Homo sapiens: one gene and its partners. The protein of the gene in region 3 interacts with the protein of the main gene of each other region in a biochemical or structural test. Each region holds a gene or a part of one and is shown on either strand. Other genes may lie near its edges.

Evidence for each region.
Region 1: the proteins of CHEK2 (region 3) and PPP2R5D form a complex in vitro, tested with the Homo sapiens proteins (one study listed by BioGRID).
Region 2: the proteins of CHEK2 (region 3) and PPP2R5A form a complex in vitro, tested with the Homo sapiens proteins (2 studies listed by BioGRID and IntAct, with this or other methods).
Region 4: of the proteins of CHEK2 (region 3) and RCHY1, one has a biochemical effect on the other in vitro, tested with the Homo sapiens proteins (one study listed by BioGRID).

The regions. Positions count from the first base shown.
Region 1 is NC_000006.12:42,987,503-42,995,569, reverse strand, and holds part of PPP2R5D (serine/threonine-protein phosphatase 2A 56 kDa regulatory subunit delta isoform), read right to left. Parts: intron 5,960-8,067; coding exon 5,882-5,959; intron 1-5,881. UniProt on the Homo sapiens protein: The B regulatory subunit might modulate substrate selectivity and catalytic activity, and might also direct the localization of the catalytic enzyme to a particular subcellular compartment.
Region 2 is NC_000001.11:212,357,933-212,362,943, reverse strand, and holds the end of PPP2R5A (serine/threonine-protein phosphatase 2A 56 kDa regulatory subunit alpha isoform), read right to left. Parts: intron 4,259-5,011; coding exon 4,157-4,258; intron 2,307-4,156; coding exon 2,174-2,306; 3' UTR 1,091-2,173; downstream 1-1,090. UniProt on the Homo sapiens protein: The B regulatory subunit might modulate substrate selectivity and catalytic activity, and might also direct the localization of the catalytic enzyme to a particular subcellular compartment.
Region 3 is NC_000022.11:28,687,243-28,689,820, forward strand, and holds the end of CHEK2 (serine/threonine-protein kinase Chk2), read right to left. Parts: intron 1,974-2,578; coding exon 1,893-1,973; intron 745-1,892; coding exon 655-744; 3' UTR 501-654; downstream 1-500. UniProt on the Homo sapiens protein: Serine/threonine-protein kinase which is required for checkpoint-mediated cell cycle arrest, activation of DNA repair and apoptosis in response to the presence of DNA double-strand breaks.
Region 4 is NC_000004.12:75,477,907-75,483,844, forward strand, and holds the end of RCHY1 (RING finger and CHY zinc finger domain-containing protein 1), read right to left. Parts: intron 4,761-5,938; coding exon 4,632-4,760; 3' UTR 1,127-4,631; downstream 1-1,126. UniProt on the Homo sapiens protein: E3 ubiquitin-protein ligase that mediates ubiquitination of target proteins, including p53/TP53, TP73, HDAC1 and CDKN1B. Mediates ubiquitination and degradation of p53/TP53; preferentially acts on tetrameric p53/TP53.

The DNA of each region.
Region 1 (8,067 bases), on a different chromosome or scaffold from region 3:
AAAAAAAAAAAAGAATAAACATGAGTTTAATAGGCAAAAAAAGACACAGGAGAAATAAAGCAGTCCGGGCCAGTGGAACTGCATCTGTGAGCACCCTGAGTCATAAAGGGGTTGTCATATCAGAAGATAGGAAGTTGGGCAGGGCACAGTGGCTCACACCTGTAATCCCAGCACTTTCAGAGGCCAAGGCAGGAGGATTGCTTCGGTCCAAGAGTTCGAGACCAGCCTTAGCAACATAATAAGAAACCTATCTCTACAAAAAATACAAAACTTAGCTGAGCACAGTGGCTCGTGCCTGCAGCCCCAGCTACTCAGGGGGCTGAGGGGAAAAGATCCCTTGAGCCCCAGGAGGTTGAGGCTGCAGTGAGCCATGATTGTACCACTGTACTCCAGCCTGGGGAACACAGTGAGACCCTATCTCCAAAAAAAAAAAAAAAAAAAAAGAAAGAAAAAGTTCGGTGGGACACAAAGGCAGGACTGGTGCTAGAAGAAGAGTGGGGCCAGCTCAGAGGGGTTGAGGGTGCCATGCTAGTGAGTTTGGATTTTAACTTGTAAGCAGTGAGATGCCAAAAATGGTTTTTAAGTAGAGGACTGATAAGACCAAGAAGGTTTTTAGAGTAACAACTCTGGCCTCAGAGAGGACAAGCTGAAGTGTGGGAAAATTTATTCCTCCCTCTGTCCCTACTCCCAGACTCAGGACAGGGCTCAGCACGTAGAGGAGTCTATGACATTAATTTTTTTTTTTTTTTTTGAGATGGAGTTTTGCTCTTGTTGCCCAGGCTGGAGTGCAATGGCGTGATCTTGGCTCACTGCAACCTCTGTCTCCCAGGTTCAAACGATTCTCATGCCTCAGCCTCCCGAGTAGCTGGGATAACAGGCTGGGATTACAGGCATGCCCCACCATGCCCAGCTAATTTTTGTATTATTAGTAGAGATGGGGTTTCACCATGTCGGCCAGGCTGGTCTCTAACTCCCAATCTCAGGTGATCCGCCCGCCTCGGCCTCCCAAAATGCTGGGATTACAGGCGTGAGGACATTGAATTTTTTTTTCCAAGGACAGATCAAGAAAGACCCTTACCTGCAGAGGCAGGTCAGTGGGGTCTCACCTGATCTCCCAAGGCTCCTTTCCATTCTAGGATTCACTTCTAGAATCTTAGAGCCAGCAGTATCACTTCATTCAAGACCACAAGAGACTCCAGAGTCACACAGACCTGGGTTGAATTCCAGCTCTGCCTTACTGCCTTACTGGCTGAATAAAAGCTACTTAACATTTCCTTTTGAGACAAGAGTCTTGCTCTCTCCCCCAAGCTGGAGTGCAGTGGCACAATCTCAGCTCACTGCAACCTCCACCTCCCAGGTTCAAGCAATTCTCCTGCCTCAGTCTCCCAAGTAGCTGGACCATGCCAGGCTAATTTTTGTATTTTTAGTAGAGACAGCGTTTCACCATGTTGGCCAGGCTAGTCTCGAACTCCTGACCTCAGGTGGTCTGCCCTCCTCGGCCTCCCAAAGTGCTGGGATTACAGGCGTGAGCCACTGTGCCCAGTTAACATTTCTAAGCCTCAGTTTCATCTGTGAAATGGGAATAATAATAATAAAGGAATCTCAGGGGAGTATTGTGAAGGTTAAATGAGACAATGTATGCAAAGTACTTAGCACAGTGCCTGGTACATAGTGTTGCACAGTATCCAGTCCCCTACCCCCTCCCCTCACCAAATTCATGTCCACCTAGAATCTGTGAATGTGACCTTACTTGGAAACAGGGTCTTTGCAGATGTAATCAAGTTAAAATGAGATCATACTGGATTGGGGTGAAACCTAAGTCCAATATGACTGGTGTCCTTAGAAGAGGAAAATTTGGACAGAGACAGAGACACATGGAGGAGAATGCTGTGTGAAGACAGAGGCAGAGATTAAAGTGATGCATCTACAAGGAATGCCAAAGATTGTCAAAAGCCACCAGAATCTAGGAGAGAGATGTGGAACAGATTCTTCCTTAGAACCTCAGAAGGACATGGCCCTGCCGACACTAATTTTACAACTTTTGGCCTCCAGAGCTGAGAGAGAATGTATTTCTTTTTTTGTTTGTTTTTTGTTTTTTGAGACAGAGTTTCCCTCTTGTCACCGAGGCTGGAGTGCAATGGCACGATCTCCTCTCACTGCAACCTCCGCCTCCTGGGTTCAAGCAATTCTCCAGCCTCAGCCTCCCCAGTAGCTGGGATTACAGGTGCGCCACCACTACGCCCGGCTAATTTTTGTATTTTTTTTTTTTTTTGAGACGGAGTTTCGCTCTTGTTGCCTAGTCTGGGTTGCAATGGTGCAATATCGGCTCACTGCATCCTCCGGCTCTTGGGTTCAAGCGATTCTCCTGCCTCAGCCTCCCTAGTAGCTGGGATTACAGGCATGTGCCACCACGCCTGGCTAATTTTTGTATTTTTAGTAGAGACAGGGTTTCACTATGTTGGTCAGGCTGGTCTTGAACTCCTGACCTCAGGTGATCCACCCGCCTCGGCCTCCCAAAGTGCTGGGATTACAGGTGTGAGCCACCATGCCCAGCCCAATTTTTGTATTTTTAGTAGAGACAGTGTTTTACCATGTTGGCCACGCTGCTCTCAAACTCCTGACCTCAGGTGATCCACCTGCCTCAGCCTCCCAAAGTGCTGGGATTACAGGTGTGAGCCACCGCACCCAGCCTATTTCTATTGTTTTAAGCCACCCAATTTGTAATAATTTGTTTTGTTTTGTTTTCTTGAGACAAGGTCTCGTTCTGTCACCCAGGCTGGAGTGCAGTGGTACGATCATGGCCCACTGCAGCCTTGAACTCCTGGACTCAAGCGATCCTCCGCCTCAGCCTCCCGTGTGGCTGGAAGTACAGGGGCACATGCCCCCACATCCAGCTAATTTTTTATTTTTTATTTTTTTGTAGAGACAGGGTCTCTGTATGTTGCCCAGGCTGGTGTCAAACTCCTGCCCTCAAGCAATTCTCCCACCTCAGCTTCCCAAAGCATTAGGATTACAGGTGTGAGCCAGCATGCCGGGCTTATTTGTAGTAGTTTATTATGGCTGCCCTAGGAAACTAACACAAAGTAACTGCTCTATAAAATAAATGTCAGCTGCTATAACTATTAGATCAATTAGAAAGGCTCTGGCAAATGCCTGACAGAGCAAAGCTGGCTAGAAGAGCCCAAAATTCCGGACAAGAAAAGGGCAAGGGGGCCGGGCGCGGTGGCTCACATCTGTAATCCCAGCACTTTGGGAGGCCGAGGCGGGTGGATCACGAGGTCAGGAGATCGAGACCATCCTGGCTAACATGGTGAAACCCCATCTCTACTAAAAATACAAAAAATTAGCCAGGCGTGGTGGCGGGAGCCTGTAGTCCCAGCTACTCGGGAGGCTGAGGCAGGAGAATGGCGTGAATCCAGGAGATGGAACTTGCAGTGAGCCAAGATCGCGCCACTGCACTCCAGCCTGGGCGACAGAGCAAGATTCCATCTCAAAAGAAAAAGGGCAAGGGAAGGACTGTGCCAAACAGCTTTTGAAGACCACAGCCTCACATCCTAGCTCCAACTTTTCCCCATACCCCTGCCATACCAGACGTGGGTACATTTCTACAAAATCATGGATAATTCCTGCTGCCATCTCATACCTGTGAACCCTGAGCAGCGTTTCACCAAACAGCCCAAGGTGAACTCAACACCCTCCTTTCCCAGATTGCTTGTAATAGACCCATTGTCTTAGGCATATTTGTTTGAAAGGCAGTGGATAAATCATAGCAGTTGGTCTCAGCATACTCCTTAACCTGTTCAGGCTTCATTTTCCCATCTATGAACTGATAACGTTAGACCCTAAGGTCCTTTTCAGCTCTAATGTGAAATTGGTGCATTTGTTCATTCACTCGTTCACTCATTCACTCACTAATACATTCAAATGCTGGGTGCTTCTGCTGTGTCAGGCCCTTCAGGAGTGAATGAGAGCCTCATGGAGCTCTCGTGCTAACACAAGAGACAGCCGATAAAACAATGAATTCACAAGGAATTATTTCATGACAGTTGTGGTTAGGTGCTACCAGCGCTACCAGGTACTGAGTGCCAAAACAGCAACTAACAGAAGCCCTCGCGAGGTCCTGGGGATAGGGGTGGGTGGTCAAAGAAGGCTGCTTTAAGGAAACGACATCCCATCTAAGAACTAAAGAAGTAGGAGTTAGGCAAAAGGTGGGAACTCCCCATTAAATTTTCCTTCCTCTCCCAGGATTTTCAGGACTTAGAAAATCCTGTTTCTTGCTGCTCTAAATGTCAAGTTACCAGCTTCCAACCACCTTCCCTGTGGGTCCCACAATTATAATCATTCCTGAAAGGGAGACTGAGCCCATAGTGTGTCTTCCCAGAAGCATTTACTATGAACCAACTGCACAAGTACACAGAGGTAGGAAAGAAGCAATGCAGAATAACATAGCTCCTTCCCTTGGAGTTCACAGTCTGAGAGGAGAGACACAGATGGGGACAAATCGTCACAGAGCTGAGTGATAAGGATTATTAAGGAGATATTTAGAATACCGCATAAGGGCCGGGTGCAGTGGCTCACGCCTGTAATCCCAGCACTTTGGGAGGCTGAGGCGGGTGGATCACCTGAGGTCAGGAGTTCAAGTCCAGCCTGGCCAACATGGTGAAACACCGTCTCTACTAAAAATACAAAAAAATTAGCCAAGCATGGTGGCATGCGCCTGTAATCCCAGCTACTCAGGAGGCTGAGGCAGGAGAATTGCTTGAACCCGGGAGGTGGAGGTTGCAGTGAGCCGAGATCGTACCATTGCACTCCAGCCTGGGCAACAAGAGAGAGACTCCATCTCAAAAAAAAAAAAAAAAAAAAAAAAAAAGTAGAATACTGCATAAGTGCAGAGGAAAGAATAATTCCTCTTCTGTGGTCCTCAACTTCCATGCCTATAAAATGGGGAAAACCTACTCAGCTTCTCATTACTTAAATGAGGCCTAAAATGAGGTGTGAAAAGTGCTTGTATCTCTTTAGAGGTGACCTATCACCAGAAGTACTGAGAAACATCTAAACGCATAGTTAACCCCAAACATTTGCTCATCAATCTCTTCTCCCAAAAAACCATAAGACCTGTCCATAACTAGAGAGCTGTGTTTCCAGTTCTCTTTCATCCCTCTGAACAGTTTAGAGCAGAGGGAGAAAGCAGAGAAAGCACCAAACACCAGTTTCCAGGTAGGATGTGGTGGATGCTCGCTGTGTATGTTCACAGGATCTTTCACCATCCAGAGCATCCCACTGTGCACACTCCCAAACTTTCATGGACATACTGTGTACTTCCTTAAGTCTCTCCCTCTTCTGGTGTTCTCTCGGCTTGCTGTTTATTGCTTTATAACCCGAGATTGCTAAGCTGCGCTGAACTCTGCTCAGGACTGTCTTTTAGTCATGCTGCCATTCAATCAGGACCAAGGGCAGTGGGCCCAGCTGGGCCCAACTCAGGGACACCAGCCCCTCCCAATCCCCTGCCCCACCCGAGCCATGCTGAAGTCACTTGTTACCCCATCAAGTGTCTGTGGACTTTTCCCCTTTTGCCCAGGATCCCAGAACCTCCCGCTTTTTGCCCTAAGAAAAAGGAATTCTCAACATTCCAAGTTGGTAAGCAGAGAAACAACTTTCATAGGAATCTCTGGGGAGTCTGAAGAACTAGAGAATGTATTTGGTCTATACCAACCAAAGGTAAATCCTGCCTGAGGGCAGTCTGGATGGGCTGTCCAGGTCCCTCCCAGGATATGGAAGCCTTCCCTTCTGCCTCACCCCCTGGGATCCCCTACCCAACTAGCCATCATGGAGTTGCGGGTGGCACCTGCACCACATCTAAGGCTACGCCTACATTCATTACCTCCTCAGTGTTCTCGCCTCCACCATCCTTGCCCGAGCTGCTAGGCTTGGCTGTGCATTTGGCAACCTTGGGGGGCTCCTGAAAGGAAAAGATGAAAGTAAAGTTAGCAGATGCCAGGAGAAGGGAGAGGTCTTATCTGGCTCCCTTAGATCTTTGTTGCAAATATCCTCTGTCCAGTTGAATCAATCAATTAGAATCTACCTTGTGCGGAGCTGGGGTGGGTGGAGGGATCTACGCAGAAGGAGATTCAGCCCCTCCAAAGAGTTTAGAATCTGGTTAGGAAGTCACCCCAAACACACACTAATTCAGCGTGAGAATGCTCCATCTTTCACCTCATCAGGCTGGTGCAGAGGTTGGGCCTGGGAGGGCCTTTGCTCAGGTCAGAACCAGGGTGAGGAGGCTTAAAGAAAAAGCATCAGGGAACAGCTGCTCACTGGTTTCTGGCTAAAGTGGTCAAAGGTGTGCCGGAGGCTTTCATGCTGGAGTGCAGGGAGTCACCACTCTCCCCTCACAGCCACCTGGAAAGACTGGGAGGCAATTTTTGGATGTCACAAATAGCGCACAGACAAGAGGGTGCTACTCAGCATTTAATCAGTAAGGCCCAGGAATGCTAACAGGTACAGAACTGTCCCACTCAAAATGCCAAGAGCACCTCAGTTGACAAGCACTAAGACAGGGATGGGGGTAAAACCCTGAACTGTTACAAAGAGTGAGCACTAGTCTGAAGTCTCCTTTGGGAACCTGGCAGCTGGCTCAGAGCCCTGGCCTGCCCAGCATCTCTTCCTATGCTTCGAGCCAAAAAAAGCAACTGCACAGGGACAGGATAGGGAAAATGTGAAAAAGACTTGGGGATTTAGGTCTGACTGCAAGCTCAACACAAATCATCCATGTGCAGCTCATGTGACCTTCCATCTTGTTAAAAGACCTGTGCAGACTGCTTGGCACTGACAGGGCTATCCTGGAGGATCTGGTTCAGTCATGAGCATCAGGCTTGGGAGGGGCCATGACAAATCCTAGTGTTTCTTAGAGGGAAATGCAACCCATACTGGGAGTGGATTCAAAGGCATGTCCCAAGACCAACAGCTGCAGGAACTGGGATAGTTAACAATGGAAGGGAGGAGTCATGAGGGATGGAGAAGCAAGATGGATCTTAAACAAATGAAGATGCAACTTGGATGCCTTGGATGCAACTTGTCCATATGGACCAGAGGCACGAGAGCAATGGGCTGAAGTTGCAAGCCACCTGAAGCTCCAAACAAGGAAGAATTTTATCATGGAGCAATTGCACTAAAACTGGCCACCTAGTGAAGCCGAAAGCTCCCCAACCCCTGAGAACATTCAAGCAGGGGCTTGGTGACCTCCTGTAAGGCATGTTGCAAAAGAAATTCAAGCCTTTAATGAGGACTGGAGGATCTTGGAAATCACTTCCAGCTCTGAGATTGTGCAATTCAATAGCAGCCAAGCCCCTTCAGTGAGAAGTGTTAAATCGAGTTATTGTGACTATGGGGGCAAAAGGATTTCAGGGAGAAGAGAGCTCTGTGTGGGCTGGAGTAGGGGGAAGGCTTCTTGGAGGTGGGGAGGAAGAAAGGTGTGGTGTAGAGCAGCTCCATGCAGTAGGGGGAAGGAGTTCCTTCTTTGGCCTGAGCACGCTCCTGCTGTATACTAACCCAGCTGGCCACACTGACCCTTATCAGTGGCTGAGAGCATGGGGTGGAGAGAAATAGGCCGGGGGCAGGGTGCAGGCAGGACACAACATTGAGGTGTCTGCACACACCCCAGACATGAACCCCTTGAACAAAGCTGACCCATCTTCATACATCTCCAATCTATTAGACCATAAGCTGCTTATTCTTTTTTGTACCCCTCCACCCACCCTACAGCACTCAGCATGATGCCTCAGACGTATCTTTCAAAGAATGAGCCTAAGAGAGATCCAGCTGCCTTAGTGTGTGGGTGTGAGTGGGCATGGAGGAACCAGGCCTACCACCCTTGCTCCCTGGCTCCTGCAGAACAGGTGAAGCACACACATTTCAGCCCAGCTCAGTAGTCAAATGCTGTGTAGCACAGAGGTTAAAAGAACATGTTTGGACTCAGCCCTGTGTTTTGGGCCCAACTCTTACTGGCTGTGTAATCACAGGCAAGTTAACTAGCCTCTCTGAGCCTCAGTTTCCTCATCTATTAGATGA
Region 2 (5,011 bases), on a different chromosome or scaffold from region 3:
TTAGCTGTAACCTGTCAAAATCTACTCTGGTTGCTCTTCAGTAAAAGAAATATACCTAAACCTTCTACAGAATAGACATTTAGACATAACCTTCACTTTCTGGAAAGGCAGGCGCTTGCCTTTTCCTTCTGTTTTGTGTAGGATCATCATTTTTAACTGCGCTGTCCCCCAGCTGTCAGCAATACTAGCTGACCCTGGGTGAGTGTAGAGAATCTAGAAGGAACACCTTAACCTGATGGCCATGACAAGATGACTCTGCAATACCTACTACTTGAGAAAAACAAAGCATGAGCTATTGTTGTAAAAGAATTTTAGTGCTCTTCCTTTTGGTACACTGCTTTCATGATGACCTGGGAGTAGTGTGCATCCCCTGTGCTAGAGTTTTTAATATTAAAGCAGAAGTAAACATCAGTAGCAGATAACACTTTATTACAATAATGTCTGATTTCTTTCTCTTTTTTTGAGACAGAATCTTGTTCTGTCGCCCAGGCTGGAGTGCATCTTGGGTCATTGTGGGCTCAAGCGATTCTCTTGCCTCAGCCTCCCGAGTAGCTGGGATTGTAGACGCCCACCAGCACGCATGGCTAGTTTTTATATTTTTAGTAGAGACAGAGTTTCACCATGTTGGCCAGGCTGGTCTTGAACTCCTGACCTCAGGTGATCGGCCCGCCTCGGCCTCCCAAAATGCTGGGATTACAGGCGCGAGCCACCGCACCCAGCCAATAATACCTGATTTCTAACTGTGCCACAGGCTCCCTGCTCTTCACTAGAAGTGCTATTTATTATGGATTATGAAAAATTAGCTTCAAAGTAAATTAAACCCATCCTCTTAACATACAAGGATATGAAAGATGATGGAAAGATATCCTAGAACTTAGAATTTTATGCAAATATTCTGTAAAACATATTTTGGTAAAGGGCTAGAACACTCAACCTTGGCACACAATCTTCCTATTTTTAAATTAGACTTCGTCCCACAATTTGTCTTAAAAGTTTCTATAAATACACATATGTATGTAAAAAGGGGGGCAGACTTCTCCTGTATGCCTAAGCTTAGAGCTAAAAGAAGCAAAGATGACATAAGGCAAAATACAAACATAGACTTTATTAAATGCTGCTCAATCCCCCAATGAAGATCTTTCATTACAAAACAGTTTTCCACACAACTGCAAGTTAAGAGATTGGAATGGTACTCTGATAACAAAAGATGTGAGAAATACTTGACCAAGTAAAAACATACAAGACCTCTATATAGTCAACCTTTTCAGAGCTCTACAGAGGAAGCCTACTGCAGTTCCTTTAAATAAAGCCAGGCAGTGACAACTAGTGCTCTGTATCACCACACTGTGGGACTCAAAGCCTCCATCCCTGGGTCAGGAGGGACTAGGTGAAGGACAGGTTGTGAGGACTGGAAAGGCCCTGCCTTCAGCCTTTGAGAGGAAGAGGAGGAATGAATTGAGAGGCAAGCTGGGTAATTCACCTGAGCTGCCTCTACCCATCTGTTACCACTCTGGAGAATTGCAGAGGAAGGGGGATATTCATGAGGAACAATCTGAAGAATTTTGGTTTACTTTCCCAGCTTTTATTTATATTTTGTGCTTTAAAAAGCCTGGAGATTTAAGGTTTTGCCTAAATTCCAGAGTACAGTAATGTATTTATTGAGGGAGGGGTTAGGGCAGGTAATTCCCCCCATCATATTTCTGGGTGAGACAAAGAGAAGGGTAAGGATGATACCTTAGTTTTATTTTAGGAAGTATTTTTTCCTAGGATGTAACTAAGGTTTGCAGCAGTGTGAAAAGCACATTATAAAAGGGAAAAATATACAGAGCAGACTACCATATCTATGTGCAACACAATCAAAGAAGAATTCAAGTCATAATTCTTACCACTCCCATAATTATCTCACTCATATCATAGATGATAAAATTCATTCATTTCTGTGAAACTTCAGAAGTGACACAATAAATCCAATGATTAGACAAAGGTTACAATATACTATGGCCATGATACAGCACAGGGCTACGTTTAGTCCATATATTTTTCCATTTACAGTTGCCAGAAAAAATTGGCCTTTTAATTATATTATACTGATGAGGTTTGTTTTGTAATTTTTACATATTTCAAAAAAGCATACAAAACTCTGCCTATCCGGCAGAGGTGGGAGGCTTTTTTTTTATTCGGCACTTGTATTGCTGAGAATACTGTGCATGTTGTAAGCACTATTCTGTTTTTCTAGAGCTTTCTTTAGCTTTAGCTCCTCTAATTTTTTCCATAATTCTTCACGTTCCAATTCCTTCTTTTTCTCTCTGTAGATAAACCAAAATTTTTGTAATCAGAAATTATTTCAGAACCCAAAGAGAGGTGCTGTTTGACAGCTTACTGGAGAACACATTACTTACCCACATTTCACTTAAATCCCTCTGCTAAAGCTTTGGAGTCCACTTACCTGGAGCACCTAATTTCTTCTTGTCACTCTCCTAAATGTACTGAGTCTGTGCATCTCCTGTACCAGCTAGACGTTACTACTTGCTTTCTGTCCCCTACACATTATCACTACCATGACACTGTACTTTATAGTCAACAAAGTACTTACACGTCAATTTTCTCACGTAAACATCTTGCAGTTGTAGTAGTCTAATCAGTATTACAAAGGCTGAAGGGGCTGGCCACTAGGTCAGTAGGAAGCACTTCCTTCACCACACCAGACAGAAGCCACATCATTTTTGCCACTAACAGCCACATCTCTAGCCACTAACCAGTTTGTATCTTACTAGCTCCTCTTTTACATGTCAAATGAAAACTTTAGTTTCAGTAATCTTTCTCTAGAACAAAATGAAGGTCAAAATATTTCATATGTCGTTTCAACTAATTAATTTCAGTTCTAAGGAAAACATTTCTGAGTAACTTGAACCTGTCTATTCTGAAAGGCTCCATGAACATGTAAAACATAGGCTTATAATTCTGCAGTTATGAGTTAAAAGGACAAATCCTTTTAAAGGATTTGCTGATTTATGCAGGTAAGAAATGATGAGTATATTCTTAGTCATGTGAAATACATATTTTTCAAATACAAGTTTCCTATGATCCTAGTCATCTTATTTTCTTCCCATTGCTTCCTGAGGCTCAAAACATGTACTTAATTTCTATTCCTGCCTGAATGCTGCTATTTAAAGGAAATAATGCATTGAGTTAGTTATTAATGGGCTGGATGGCTTTGAAGAAAGGCTATCCATTTTCTACTTTAAGATAACCATAACTAGGAACTTGTCAAAATAGATAGCTTTTCTAAACAGAACAGGTAATATGCTTATTAGAAGTAAATGGTAACTGTTATCCTCAAATAATGGGTGGGCTCAGGTACACTGGTTACTAACCACTTAAGTTTAAGAAAGTGCTTCTTGAGTTTGAAATAAACATATGAGAAGAAAGTAACTCTTGAAAGATTATTTTATAGTAATTTATGAAATTCTCAAAAAGAGGTAATCACTAGGCCATGTTCCTAAAGGCTGATACGTGCTAACATTTATACTCTAAAATACATATTATTGCAAGGACAACATATTAATAGTACCCTAAGCCATATCATTATGTGACTTCCCTCTTCCCAAAGGAGAACTATGCTGACTTTAAAATACCACCTTCTGATAATCCACAGCGTAAGAATTACCTACTGCTAACAAAGAACACTTGAAAAGTAAAGCTCACTCTGGAAGCCCACGTGGACAAAAAGGATTTTCGTAAATGCATGGATAAAAAATCAAATTGTACAAATTGATATTTAAAATTCAGCATAAATTATATTTCATATGCAGATGCTAACAGACTGAGGAAATCTAAGGCTCAGAATGAGATAAACAGGATTTATGATCCACATTAAAATCATAATCTAACCATTTAGAGGAAGTAAATTATGTAACTACCCTCAAAAATAAATGCTACTGCTTTTTCTGCTTTAACAAATTTATAAAAATACTGGGGCTAGTTTATCTGGAAATGACTTATATGTTAAGAGACTTTCACATTGTAATGTTTACTATAAGGTAATTAACTTCTTAAATATGAAAATCTGAACTGAGAGAAGATACCTTCCTGAACTGAATCACATTCAACTAACATAAAATGTATAGATAATTTTGTAATTCAAAATATCAAATACCTCTGTCTTTCAGCTTTGTATGAGCTAGTAAGGTCATCGAAAAGCTTGCCATTCATTTCCATTAGGGTTTTCAGCACATTGTATACCAGTGCTACAATGGTCCTGAAATGAAAATGAGCCAGTCCTGAGTTATGATACTGCTAACAGAGAGGAAATGTAACACTATGGTCTCTAAAATGGGTTAAAGCTTGGCTGATTTCATTTAATCCATTTTAGAGATGATAAAACTGAGGCTCAAGAGGTTTGTAATATGCTCAAGGTCATACAGCAAGTGGTGGTAGAGACAGTCTAAGAAAACTTAAATCTTTTCCATTTTATCATGCTTACATTAAACTCTAGTTAAAAATGTTCACTATAGTTATCTTCATTTCTGCTTTACAGTCTCATGTCTGAAATCCTGAGTAACAACATTAAAAGAAGATGAAAAAGATCCAATTACCAAAACTTATGAAAAGTAGAAAGCCGGATAAGGATGTTAAAGAAGTTAGAATATATTACCCTTAGCACTTCGGCTTTCCCCTGGGACAGTGCCATTTATAGAGGGGAGACTATACACTGAGAGTAGACCAACACAACTCTGCATTAACGGAGTAGTTTGTGTATCCTCTGCAAATGTTCAGTTGGTCTCCCCAAGAGGGTTTGACCACAACCTCCAGGGAGATTTGCAATTTTAAATTGACATGAAGGCTGGGCACAGTGGTACATGCCTATAATCTCAGCACTTTGGGAGGCCAAGGTGAGATGATCACTTGAGCCCAGGAGTTTCAGTCCAGCCTGGGCAATATAGTGAGACTTCAACTGTCCAAAAAAAATAAAAATAAAAATTCGCTGGGTATGGTGGTGCACACCTGTGGT
Region 3 (2,578 bases):
TCCCTTCCCTGGAACTTTCCAAGGGGCCCTTAGAATTTGTATTCAGCTCTCACAGGCTGAGACCAGGGTGACATCCTGGGAAACCTGCCTAGTGATAGCCAAGGTGTAGCTCCAGATGAAAGGCACACAACTTTAAATATAAAAAAGCCATTCAGGCTAGGCTCAGTGGCTCATGCGTGTAATCCCAGCACTTTAAGAGACTGAGGCAGACAGATCACCTGAGGTCAGAAGTTCAAGACCAGGCTGGCCAACATGGCAAAACCCTGTCTCTACAAAATATATAAAAATTAACAGGCATGGTGGTGCATACCTGTAATCCCAGCTACTCAGGAGGCTGAGGCACAAGAATCGCTTGAACCTGGGAAGCAGAGGTTGCAGTGAGCCAAGCCTGCACCACTGCACTTCATTCAGGCTGGGCAACAGAGTGAGACTCCATCTCAAATAAATAAATAATAAAGCCATTCAACTAAAGAACCGATTATCAAGCAGAAGCACAAAGCCCAGGTTCCATCAGGTTTTTAATTGTACATCAGTGACTGTGAAAAAGCAATTATTCCCATAATTAAAATACAAACTATAAAAAAACAGACTCAAAGAAAAGAAAGATGACAGAGTGAAAGAAGGTACATTTCTTTCGTGTTCAAACCACGGAGTTCACAACACAGCAGCACACACAGCTGGGCGCTTTGTGGTCTCGGCACCCTCGGCTTCCCCTTCACGGGGCCGCTTTCGACTAGTAGAAGGCTGAAAATAAAGGAAAATGGAGAAATGTTCAAAAGAAAATCACTGGCTTCTTTAAGATTATCAAAGTTCCTCAATATGCTTCCAGTAAAGTGGGGGCATTTGATGTGAAATTCTAGAACCAAAAATTACTGGTTGTCATCATTGACAACTGAGTCCTCACCACAGCCCCCAACTCAGACATGCTTATCTAATAGATATTTCTCTCCCTTATGGCTTCTGACCTCTGAACGATGTATACTGAAAGCAAGTAGCATAACCAACTTCCTCTTGATCGTCCTCTTCTAAATATCAAGTTTAAAAGGACTATAATACCTCTCAGTTGAAGCCCCAAGTCTTGGTCTTTTGCGGGAAGACAACCTTTGTGCCTTAGTTGTTTTCCCATATATAAAATTGGGAGGAAGGCTGGGTGCGGTGACTCACAGCTGTAATCCCAGCACTTTGGAAAGCCGAGGTGGGCAGGTCGCTTCAGGTCAAAAGTTCGAGACAAGCCTGACCAACATGGCAAAACCCCATCTCACCTAAAAATTCAAAAATTAGCTGGGCACAGTGGCGGACACCTGTAATCCCAGATACTCGGGAGACTGAGGCAGGAGAACTGCTTGAACCCAGGAGGCAGAGGTTGCAGTGAGCTGAGATTGCACCACTGCACTCCGGCCTGAGTGACAAACCAAGACTCTGTCTCAAGAAAAAAAAAATTGGGGGGAGGAAACAGTGGGAAAAAGGACAGCTACCATTCAACAACAACAACAACAACAAAAAAGCAGGACTGGAATTAACTTATACTCACAAAGAACTTTAAAGAATAAAATTGTAATCAAGGAATCAACTACTGACCCAAATTTTAATTTGTTCAACAAATTTATATTTGAGCCTCTAATAGAGTCTTTCGAAATTGCCTTGCAGGTGACCTTTTGGATGACAATCCCTAGCTGTGCTTATCGGTCTATTATGTGTTAGATATTAAACATATCCTGCATTTTTAAATCTAAGGGTGCTGGAGCGAATCAAGTTAAAACAGAGTTTCTACTACATTATAACTGAAACAATGTTAAGCAATTGCTACTCAGGAAAATCTTGAATTTCATCATCTTTGCTTATCAGCTCCTTAAGCCCAGACTACATTTAGTGATCATCAGGAATACGAATACCTGGGCTAGAACCTGGGGTAGAGCTGTGGATTCATTTTCCTCAGACAGAAGATCTTGAAACTTTCTCTTCATGTCTTCATCCTGTGAGGGAATTAAAAACATAAGTAGCTGTGTCTGAAGGATAATAAACTCCTAGAATGACAGGGCTAGCATGCCCCTGTGGAAAGAGGGAGGAAAAATGTCCGTCCAAGAATCATCCCCTTGATGAAGCTCCCACAGCGAAGGCATTATGTGTTGCCCGCCTCTACCTTCCCAGAGGAGTCTAATTAGCAGTCAATGCTCCATCAATCCTGGCTGACTCACATCCACATGCCTAAAAGCTCTCAGTGGGTCAATCACAGCCTCCAGCAGTCAAGAGTTTCTTAATTAGTATCCAAGATCCTGAGAAAGGTGGCAATCAGGAGGCCAGAGGCTGGGCCTGACTCCGTGCAGCTCCTCAAATCCTTCCCGGACCACTCTCCACCTGCTGCCCCTGCCATGAATGAGGCCAGTCACCCAGACTGTCCTAACAACCAGCCCAGCACCCTAGGAAAATTCACCCAGCAGATGCCATACAAATTTTCAGAAGTACTTAAGCCCACAGTATCCCAGAGCTCAGGTCTAATGAGAAAGGGAGACAATAAACAGAACCAAGTATTTTGTTTCTGCTGCAGGAGCGGGAGGTGAGGGGTTTCATGCTGCAGGAG
Region 4 (5,938 bases), on a different chromosome or scaffold from region 3:
AATTGGCTTTCAATAAATATGCCAACACTACACAATGAAGCCAGTCTCTTCAATAAATGGTGTTGGTAAAACTGAATATACACATGCAGAAGAATGAAACTGGATCCTTATCTCACACCACATATAAAAATCAACTCAAAATGGTTTAAAGACTTAAACATAAGACCTGAAACTATAAAACTACATGAACAAAACACAGGGGAAATGCTCCATAACACTGGTATGGGCAAAGATTTCTTGGATATAACCCCAAGAACACAGACAACAAAAAATACATGGCGCTGCATCAAACTAAAAAGCTTCTGCATAGTGAAGTGAATGATAGAATGAAGAGACAACCCATGAATTCGAAGAAAATATTTATAAATCATACATCTGATAAGGGGCTAATATCCAAAATACATAAGGTACTGAAGCCACTAATAAGAAAATGAACTCAATTAAAACATGGGCAAAGGATGTAAACAGATATTCCTAAAAAAGACACAAATGGCCAACAAATATATGAAAAGATGCTCATCATCACTAATCAGAAAAATGCAAATTAACACAAGGTATCACCTTACACCTGTTAGAATTACTATTATCAAAATGATAAAAGTGTTGACAGGGTGTAGAAAAAAGGGAACACTTGTGCACTGACGTTGGGAATGTAAATTAAAACAGCCAATATTAAAATCAGCATGGAGACAGAAAACTAAAAATAGAATTACCATATGATCCAGCAATCCCACTTCTGGACATATAGCTAAAGGAACTGAAGTCAGTGTGTCAAAGAGGTATCTGTACCACCACGTTCACTGCAGCATTATTCACAACAGCTAAGATATGGAAGCAATCTTAATGTCCATCATCATATGAATGAAAACAAAATGTGGCATATATACTCAATGGAATACTATTCAGCCCTATAAAAGAAAGAAATCCTGTCACTTGTGACAGGAACCTGGAAGACATTATACTAAATGAAATAACCCAGGCACAAAAAGGTAAATACTATGTGATCTCAGCTATCTGTGCAATCTAAAAAAAAGGTGAATTCATAGAAGTAGAATGGTGGTTACCAGAGGCTGGGAGAGAGAAGTGGATGGGAAAAGGGGAGATGCTGATCAAAGGGTACAAAATATCAGTTAGACAAGAGGAATAAACTTTACTGATCTATTACACAGAATGGTGAGTATAATAAATAATGCATTGTACATTTCAAAAATATTAAGAGTAGATTTTAAGTGGTTTTTTTACCACAAAAAATGGTATGAGGCAATAAATTTATTACATTGATTTAATCATTCTACACTGTAAACATATATCAAAACATCACATTGTACTCCATATATATAATATACACAATTATCAATTAAATTTTAATAACACAAAGGACAAAAGAAAAAGTGGCATAGTTTTGAACAACTCCCATTTAAAATTAATTCATTTCAAATTAAACTATTCAACTAGTGAATACCTATTGCCAGGCACTTATAAAATAATGTTGGCTCTTTAGTACTTAGTAAATTTATTTTGATGCATGACCAAAATAAAAGGGAAATTTAACATGTATATCATATGAAAATAGGTTTTAGTGAAGAAATAAAAACTGAGTTTGATTTTAAAATCCATGACACTATAAACAAACTACTACTTCCAACATAAGCTAAAGTTAATTCATAAAGAGTTCTATGTACTGGTTAAGAAGACCCCAGAAACTAAGAAATGAACAACTTGATATACACTCATTTTTTTTTTATACATACATCTTTAATGATAAAAGAAGCTGAGATGCTATGCACCAAAAAATTCGTAAGGGTATTGTTATTTTACTTTTTTCAAAAATAATCCAAATAAACTATAGATACAAATTCTGCGGCAGGGCAACCTAACTTATTTCAGGGACAGATAATTCTAGTGTACTTAAGATCTGTCTAAGTATTTAACATTCCTGTAAGCATTATAAAAAAGAATAGGAAAAGAATGAAGTTGTCTGTTAAAATGTTAACAGTAGTTCTCTCTGAAAGAAGGGATTGTTGAGAGTTTTTTACCTTCTTTCTTATAGAGGTATAACCTATACTTATGAAGTCAGAGAAAGAAAAAATATTTAAGGGTAAAGTTATGTATTTTAAGTTTTGCATACTGAATGGTAAGGGATGTAGATTTTATTCTTATTGTGAATGAGAAGTGTTGAAGGATTTTAATCATCGAGTTGACGTGTCATGAACAAATACTTGAAGCAACCCTGGGTACCGAAGCCTAGAGACTTTGAGTACATTTGAAAATTGCTTTAAGTGCATGACTAGACAGCATAAACGAGTGATTGCATATGTACTCTGCATTATTTTGGACATGTTTGGATCCTAAGTTAAAGAAACAATCAGATTGTGAAATAAGACTTTCTAACTAGAGTCACCTAAAAAAATGAAAGGTTAATCTATCAAATCATGAGCGCTTCAATGATATGGATGACTAGCTGTGAGGGGTATTTTAGCAAAATAGAAGTTTAGATCAAAAGCAATGTGGTAAAAGTGGGTTTGGAGTCAAACTTGGATCTGATTCCCAACTCCAACATATAGTGTCTGTTATTTACCCCCAATGTGTCATTTTAACCTCTAAACCTCAGCTTTCTTGTCTATGAGGACAACACTTACCCCACAGAATCATTGTAGTAATTAATGCTAATGCATGACCCAGCACAGATGTTGAAAACAGAAGAGCCTTATTATTATATACTCACTCCTATTTAAAGATCCAATGATTCAATGATTAAAAACAATAACATGATTGGTTTGGCAGAATAATACCAAACATAAAAAGTAATACATCTGGACCAAGCACAGTGGCTCATGCCTGTAATCCTAGCCCTTGGAAGGCCGAGGTAGGAGAAATGCTTGAGCCCAGGAGTTCAAGACCAGCCTGGACTTTGTTTCTACAAAACAATTAAAAATTAGCTGGGCATGGTGGCACACACCTGTAGTCCCAGCTACTCAGGAGGCTGAGGTGGAAGGATCAGTTCAGCCCAGGAAGTCAAGGCTGCAGTGAGCTACGATCACTTCACTACACTCTAGCCTAAATGACAGAGCAAAACCACTTCAAAAAAAAGTATTAGATCTGGAAAACTAGTCTTTACTTATCTGTATACTAATTGGTAATACCCAGGAACATCCTTTCCCAAATGAAGATCAGCACTGCTGCTCTGGCCAGGCCAAGGAAACAGATGAAGGGAAAGAACATAAGAAGAGTGGAATACAGAAGACAAGAAGGTGGGATAAAATAAAGATCTGAGTCCCAAACTGCTGCCTTTATCTAGGTGAATAAATTTCAACAAAAGAAGAAATAAATGTGCCAGAACTCTTAGGCTTTCTAGTTAAAAGGCTAACTTCCTTATTCAAAGAAGATTCAAATAGCTCAAAGTTGGAAATACAACTGGTGCTCAATAGGTACTTATCAACTGATAAATGTACATTTTACATCCTAGCCTAATGGTAAAGCTATTACGGAGATAACAGTGTCAAAGTCGGCTGGATCATCAAACATATTTGTTAACTTTGTTCCTGAAGTAAGAGGTATATTTAATTCCACTACATGAGCCCAAAAAAGTATTATGAAATCAGAGATCTTGCCAGGAATATCCCATGCCCTTCCCACTCATCCATCCCCTATTTTCACACGCTTAGGGAAGAAATATTCTATTCATTTACAATAAGACATCCACTCCTTGCATAAAGAAAAATGAGTACATTGATCAAATATGATGAACAATAGAATGTACTGCTGTGAGGACAAGGACTTTTATCTTTATTGTTCACTGTTGTCTCTACAGCATCTAGAAACATATCTGCCACATAGCAGTTGCTCAATAAATACTTGCTAAATGAAGGAATGAATGACTCTTTGAAGAAATAATTTTGGGCAACCTAAAAAAAACTGTTTTCAATGTTGATGTTTTTATTAAGGCTTTGGAAGAGTCTTATTATTTTACATAATAATTTTCCCAACTACTTTTATGGAATACCTCAAAAGAAAGAAAATTTCTTTTACATTATAGAACTGATGATACTGCCCTAATTGAGCCAAACATAGAAAACTTTGGAAAAAACTTTCTATAAAACAGTTTCAATATAATTTTATTAGCAGTTATTACATCAAAATTCACATTTAGAGGATCCAGAGGACTGTCTTAGAAAATTCTAAAGCATATTTAATTAGGTTTTAACAGTAAGGGAGAACTTAATATAACACAGCCCTTAAAAAGTCAAGACTACTACTGAAAATTAAGTGCAGTTCTATCAAGAACTAGAAATGAACTGCACGCGTAGTGTCACTTAAAGCAAAGCTTCATGAAAATATAATACACTTCTATGAATGTATCAGTGGCAAACATCATTGGCTTCCAAAAAACTGACACTAAAGGAATTTCCAATCAAAACACAAGCACAGTGGCTTTCATTCAATATAGAGCTATGATAAGTCTATCAAGAGACCCTGAATCCTTACGTACTTGTAATATGATTTTATGCTGTGACACTAGTACAAAACACATCAACTCTAATGCATAGATGACGACACATGATAACACGATACCAAGGAAAGCCTTTTTCTATATCAGAAAATGCCAAGTTCTCCAGTACTGTGTAGGCTCGTCATTGCTGATCCAGTGAAATTCTACGTCCTCCAGCTTGAGCAGTATTATAGGATTCACAAATCTTACATTTCATGCCTAATATATGAAACTGAACAGTGGATCGTCCATTACAGTCATTGCAGAGAATCTGAAAAGAGATTAATTCAAATTAAGTATTTTAAACCTTATAAATACAAGTAGCATTGTCTACTCATAATCCCTTGAAAATCATATTAAAGATGTGAAAATACATACATAAGTCTAAAAATTTCCAAAAGTAGAAATTTCTTCTTATTTTTTCACTGAAAACTCTAAAAAGCTATTAAGGTGGCTCTGAATTCAGAAAATGAAAAGGCAGATTTGAGCAAAAAAAAAGCTTATTTTAAAATAGTTTCCAAATATTAAATAGTATAAATAGTACAAGCAAGAAAATTAACCTAGGCATAATCAGATGAATACCTGATACTTATAATTCAAAATAACAACATGATTTCATTATTTTTCAGTCAGAAATGTATCTCAATTAATAAAACCAAAATTTTTACACAAATAATATTTTTGCTTATTTTTTAGGTTTAGTATACTGTTCCCTGTCTTCTCTGCCTTAGGAATGAATTAAATTCCAAAAAGAGTGTTCCTAAAATTGAGTAAACAGAGAGGCTCTTCGCTCATCCCTACAATAACAATAAGATGCCGTTTAAGAATTAATTTCTTCTAGTGCTAAGTAAGAACCTGAAAAATAACAAAGGTGTTAACCTGAAAATCAATACATTACTATGCAAGAAAAGCACTAGTTTTTGAATAGTCACACTATAATAAGCAGAAAATTTCCAAATTTGCTCTAAATTATAATTTGGAAAATAATTATTTAAAAAATATGATCTAAATGGAGAAAGTGGATTAGTGGTTGCCTAGGCCTGGGGCGTTAGGGAATGACTGCTAATGGGTATGAGTGTTTCCTTTTTGGGATGATAAAAATGTTCTAAAATTGTGGTGATGTTTGCATAACTACATGAATATTTTAAAAAGCACCAAATTGTACAATTTAAATGAATGAACTATATAATATGTGAATTGTATCTTAATGAAGCCATTATTTCCAAAAATTATCTACATGGAACATAGCACACTTCGGCCTCTAGTCAATCACATGATTATCGGTTAGTATTCCAAAAGTGATTTTTCATTGCCCTAACAATTATCCACATGAATTATGAAACACTCCAGTGTAAATAAAACAAAAAATAATTTTCATTTGGCTTTGCTACGTGGTTTTTATCCTCGTATGCTGAAGTATCTGAAGATGTTCAGAAAATGTGTAATATA